2 separate regions of the Homo sapiens genome follow, and region 2 is linked to region 1. A link means that fine-mapping ties the variant in region 1 to the expression of a gene that starts in the linked region. Tissue or cell type: whole blood. Region 1 holds a variant in brackets; the other region holds the start of a gene. Each region is shown on its reference strand, or each on the opposite one.

The links. PIP is the estimated chance that this variant, and not a neighbour inherited with it, causes the effect.
Region 2: SMIM1 starts here. The variant in region 1 is the best candidate, but not a certain one, in a credible set for the expression of SMIM1 in whole blood (TOPMed, PIP 0.67).

The regions. Positions count from the first base shown.
Region 1 is chr2:82,130,347-82,133,249 of GRCh38, reverse strand. No RefSeq gene overlaps it. Among named protein-coding and RNA genes, the nearest start is that of LINC01815, 660 kb to the right of the region's middle. The variant T/C (reference allele first, on the strand shown) is at 1,433.
Region 2 is chr1:3,771,254-3,774,156 of GRCh38, reverse strand. SMIM1 (small integral membrane protein 1 (Vel blood group)) reads right to left here and starts at 1,408. Exons shown (of 4, transcript NM_001288583.2): 1 at 1,369-1,408; 2 at 976-1,094. CCDC27 (coiled-coil domain containing 27) reads right to left here. Exons shown (of 12, transcript NM_152492.3): 12 at 2,512-2,756. The coding sequence ends at 2,634. RefSeq lists enhancers at 29-544, 545-1,060, 2,347-2,903 and a silencer at 1,122-2,001.

The DNA of each region.
Region 1 (2,903 bases):
TTTTATCACAGTGATTGATTTATTCGTTGCCCTCTAGTCTTTTTCTGTAGCCTGGCAAGCCTTTTTTCTCTCTTTTATGACATGATCCAAAATAAGTCCTTTCAAATTAACTTGTGGAAATCAAATTTCATGGAACATGTTTACTAAAGGTCACGTTTATGAAATGTTCTATAATTCTTTTACTATTTGGATTTATATTGAGGAAAACTGAGTTAGGATAATTACTATATTAAATACACCAGACATGCTTGTTGCTCACAATTATTCATTTAATTGGGCTCTTTTTAAAACTGTATTTCAAGTATTAGAACATCAGGTACATAAAGTGCTAATTTCCAGACATGTCATATCATCATAGTTTTATAAAAATCTGCCTCATATATACTTCCTTACCTGTGATATCCATAAAATATATAAATTTTTTCAAATAGATTTTAAAATGTAGCTAACATAGTTTTTAATGAAAAAGAGATCATCGAAAAAGTATGTCATATTTAATGAATATGTCATTGCAGTTTGAGAGCATTGTTTACTGTTTGTTTTGGATTCACTTGCTCTAAAAACCTCAGAGAGATGTACCTCTTAGCCGCCTAGAGGGTCTCAAAGTGTTGGTGTTACAGGAAAGGGGTCCTGATCCAGACCCCAAGAGAGGATTCTTGGATCTCACACAGGAAATAATTCAGGGCAAGTCCACAGTGCAAAGCAAAAGCAAGTTTACTAGGAAAGTAAAGGAATACAAGAATGGCTATTCCATCAACAGAGAAGACTCAAGGGCTGCTGGTTGCCCATTTTTATGGTTATTTCTTGATGATATGCCAAACAAGGGATGAATTATCCATGCCTCCCCTTTTTAGACCCTTTAGAGTAACTTTCTGACATTGCCATGGCATTTGTAAACTGTCATGGAACTGGTGGGAGTGTAGCAGTGAGGATGACCAGAGATCACTTTCATCGCCATCTTTGTTTTGGTGGGTTTGGGCTGGCTTCTTTACTGCAACCTGTTTTATCAGCAAGGTCTCTATGACCTGTATCTTGTGCCAACCTCCTATCTCATTCTATGACTTAGAATGCCTTAACCATCTGGGAATGCAGCCCAGTAGTTCTCAGCCTCATTTTACCTAGCTCCTATTCAAGATGGAGTTGCTTTTGTTTACACACCTCTGACATTTCCCCACTCTGCAACCTAAGGGTTGCAGAGAGGATTCATCTTCTGTAACTTCTTCAGGCTGAATAGGGATAATGATATTCCTGCCTAACAGTGAGGGTCTCTTGTGTTCAGGGTAGAGAAGAGCTCAGTATAAAGCATTAGTATGGAGACAGCCATTCATGACTCATGATTTCTGACAAGAAGTGACATCTGGAAGATTAGTAAGTGTTCAGTTTAAGAAAACACTTAATAAGCTTGTCCTGCATTCTTCCATAAAGAGTACAA[T/C]GGCAATATATTTCACAATAGTAAAGCAAAATAAGTAAAATTGTCCCAAGTAAACTAAGTAAGAAGGCTTTCCATGAACTGCGCAACTGTTGGAACCAAGTTGTTATTGGGTTGCTAGCCAATTCCAGTGTGCCCAGAATTAGAATACTGATTCAGATTTTTATATTACCCACCCCTCTTGTTTCTTCTGTGTAGTAGCCAGAGATGACTGTTTGGTTCATGGGAATAAGCAGGGTTTGCCTAAATTGCAGAAAAAAACTAAAACAACTGTTGAGACTAGAATTTAATAATGAGTGTACCATAGTTCTTGAAACATAATATTCCTCTCTCCAGTTCCCAATTTTTTGATTATTTTTATAAAGTGCAGCAAGAATAATTATTTCACATAAGTTCTTTTTAAATTGGCTTATTGGAAATCTGTTCCATAGAAGGAACATCAGATAAGGACTTTTTTAAAGCCAAGCCCAGCCATGGGCTTGTACCCTTAAATGCCTATGAGTTGAGTAAATTCCTCTCTTCTTGGGTTTCCAAGATAACTTAGGGCTCCAGGACCTGTTAGAATGTGACATTACTTACCATAGGTCAGAAACCCTGTACAGGGACTGTACAGGCAAGGTATGAGACCAGTTCCCAAGGGGCTTTTATTGGCTCTACAAGTCAAATTTGATTCCTTAAAGATAAGCATGCCATTACAGTTAAAGCCTTGGTAAAACAACCAGTTTCTCCAATTGTGTCCTGTTTCAAAAGAAAAGAGATTCTTATTGCACTTATGCAAATAACTATATTGCCATTAGTTAAGAATGCTCACAAATAGTTTCCAAATTCTGGAGAAATCAGGTAGAGAGAAACAAAAGCTCCAAATTTTGTTCACAGGAGTATACCTTAATTAATTGCTACAAGCTGTAAAGAGCTCAAAAGGAAAGTTTTCTTGACTCTGAAAAACAAAACATAGGATTAGCAATGTTTTAAGCAGTTAGACCTCTATTAGTTTAGTCCATGCAATTAACTTGTTTGATATTCATCAACATTTCAGCTCTCTATGAGAGTCTTGAATGTTTTCCCTCTATTGTGATGTTACAATCTCCAAAATTATCAGAAAATCTGCATTTAAGTACATCTGTTAAGAGTTCTATAGCTGACTATAAACCAACCTTCTAAAGAGAACCAAAACAAGACAACACGTGTCTGTGGATGACAAAAAGTCTTAGGACAGCCAATGTTAAAGTCACAATTGAAAAGAAAATTTGGTTACTTCTGTGGCATATAACAATTTTACATAACAATTATAACACTTAATAATATACACTAAGTCATATCAGAATTATAGGAGTTTCCCGTTATTTTGGAACATATACGAGTAACACATTTGTACAAATATAGCACAAAGAAAGCCAAACACTGTTTCATATATGATAATGTTTCCTGTTCGATTTTTTAACTCCCTAAATTTTATATACTCTAAGACCCTCCT
Region 2 (2,903 bases), not on the chromosome of region 1:
AGGCTGACCTTCCTCCCAGGTCATCGGCACAGAGGCCTAAAGGCACAGCAGCCACTCCCCTGCAAGAAGCCAGCTCAGAAACTCAGGCCCCAGGCAGTTCTGAGACTCCCGGCACTTCCATGTCTGCCTTCCCCCAAAGCCCAGAGAGGCAGAAGGAGCTGTCTCAAAGCCATAAAGTGTGCCTTCGGTGGGAGCCCTGGCTCAGTGCAGCCTGGCACTCAGGCCCGGAGAGGCCCAGCCTCTACTGGAGTATGGGTGCTGTTTTCCCGGAGCATGTGGAGCGGTCAGCTGCCTACCCGAGGTTCACGCCCTCTTGCCTGGTGTGCAGAATCCCATTCTGGTCCCAGCAGCAATGTGCCAGCCCCAGGTAACAGCCATGACCCGGGTAAGACAAGCTTAATACCACCACCCCTGCTTTCCCAAGTCACCCAGCTGGGGTCCAGGAGCCAGGGTGCAGCAGGGGATGGGAGAGTTTGCTTCTGTGAAAGCAGCAGCAGCCACCTCCTTCTTCCAGACTCGACGTGATGGCTGGAGCTGCTGGAGCTGCAGCAGCCGCCTTGCAACCCGACATCCACGCAGCATTAGTCTCGGGAGTGCTGAGGCTCCAAGTCCACAGCAGCAGCCCACCATGGGCCTCCCGGTGGGAGGGGTCAAGCCCAGTGTGTTCAACTCTGGGATCATGGGTTCCTGTCTTGCTGACGTAGAACACGTTGTTCCCAAGTCACCCCGGTGCACAGCCACCAGAGCCGGCCCTTGAGGCTGGCCTCCCTCACTTGCTCAGTAAACGTCTCTCCACACTCATGTGATGGTCACAGGTGTGGCGGCAGGAACCCATCAGGGACTCCCCTCCAGGCCCTGGGAGGCTCCCGGATCCTGGCACCTCCTGGGGGCTTGTGAGTGCAGGAAGGCCCTAGGTACACAGGCGCCCCTCCATAGACCTCTTCACCCCACAGCGCCTCAGGGCCCCACACTTACCCGGAGAACCTTGCCTGAGGGCTGGGGCCTCTGGGCCAGGTTGCGGTCAGGGCCTGGCCAGCGGCCCGCACCTCCCAGCGGGGCAGGTCGTGGGCTGAGGTGCGGCAGACGCCTCGAGCCTAAAAAAATAAAGGTGACCGGAGAAGCCGATCTTGCTAAGGGCCGGGAAGGGAAAGTGGCTGGTGTCGGGGGTCCCCAGCAGCCACAAGGAGCCGGGCAAGGAGCCGGGCGGGCAGTTCCGGCCCTGGCCCCGCACCGCGGGTTAGGCCGGTGGGGGTCAGTCCAGGGCACGCCCCCACCCCCGCCAGTTCTCAGCCAGCGAGGCCGCGCACAGTCGCACCTGCCCACTGCGGCCGCACCGGGAAGCCGCAGCCCGGACCCCGCGCGCCTCACCTGTGTCCCCGCGTCTCTGGGCTCCGCAGGGGCCGGGCCTGGGCAGGGGGCGAGGGCGGGGGCGGGGCCACGCGGGGAAGGGCTGGAGCCAGCAGCGGGGAGGTGTCTGGTCCGGAAGGTGGCGGGGCTAGAGTGGTGGGCGGGGCCATGCGGGGAAGGTCTGGGGCCAGTAGCGGGGAGGCGCCTGGTCCAGAAGGGGCCGGGGGCGGGGCGAGAGGGGGCGGGGCGAGAGGGGGGCGGGGCCATGCGGGGAAGGGCTAGGGCCGCAGCGGGGAGGCGCCTGGTCCAGAAGGGGCTGGGGGCGGGGCGAGTGGGGCCGGGAGACGCCTCGTCCGGAAGGGGCCGGGGCTCTAGGCCGCCCAGCCCCGGGGCCAGGAGGTGCAGGGGGGCCGGGCAGGGTCTGCAGAGGGCTGCACTTTCTGCCCCCAGACGGCTCGCCCTTGGGGCCTCCAGGGTCCCCGACCTCCTTCACCCCTGCTGGAGCCCCTCCGACGCCACGAGCCTCCCAGCCCCGCGGGGACCCGGCTGCAGCGCCGACGAGACTGCGGGAGGCTCTGGGCGCGTCTGGGCCTGAATGCTGGGTTCGGGGACCCGGCCGCGGGGACCGTCCTCCTCCGGGGCTTGAGGGGCGTGGCGCCCGCACGTGGCCCACGCTCGGTGCTCGCGGCGGGAAGGGAAGCAGGTGTGGGTGGGGAGCAGAGAAGGGTAATGGGGAGAGTCCCTTCCGAAGGTGTTCAGGCGCCCAGAGCCTCAGAGGCGCCGGGGAAGCGTCGGGGACCACAGACACCGTTCCCGTGCGTAAAGCTTTCCTTCCAGGAGCGGGGGGATGGGAACAGAGCCCCCCACCCTCACCATCTTCCAGAGGGGTCCTCCAGCAAGAGAGTGCCCCAGCCAGGAGAGCCCCCAGGGCAGAAGGTCACAGACCCCTTCTGCTCAGGCGTGAGGTCTGTGCTGAGTGCTGGGCGGACACCCCGGCTCAGGCCTCTGGCAGCCTGGTGCCGCAAGGGGACCTGTTAGGAGCTAGGGGCACAGGCTGGTGTGCTGACTCCCTGTGAGTGAGCTTTGGAATGGGGAGTGTCCTTGTAGCTCAAGGTCGCAGAGGAGAGTAGGCCCCCGCGTGGATCCCAGAGAAGAAAAAGGTGGGACAGTGCCAACACCGGGGTTTAATTCTGAGTCTGAGAGCAGGACGCATGGTGGGGGCGGGTGGTTCTGGAGCTGGGCCCCGGCCTCTGCTGGGCTGACCGTATTTGGGGGCCTGGCTGGGCCTACTTGGAGGTCCCCTTCTTGGATTTGCTGGTCAGGAAGGCCTCTGACTGTTGCAGGGGGGGCACTTTGACGCCTTTCTGCTTCAGCTGATTATAGTAGTCGCTTCTCTCTGAGATAATTCTCTACACAAGAAACACAGCCGTCGAGGTGGCCTTCCCAGTTCCTCACCTTGGCCTTGAGGCCGGTCTGCACAGTCCGTGCCAGCTGCCCGGGACGCCACCCTCTCCTCCTCCTCCAGAGAGGCTTGCTGCAGCAGGGGTGTGCTGGTG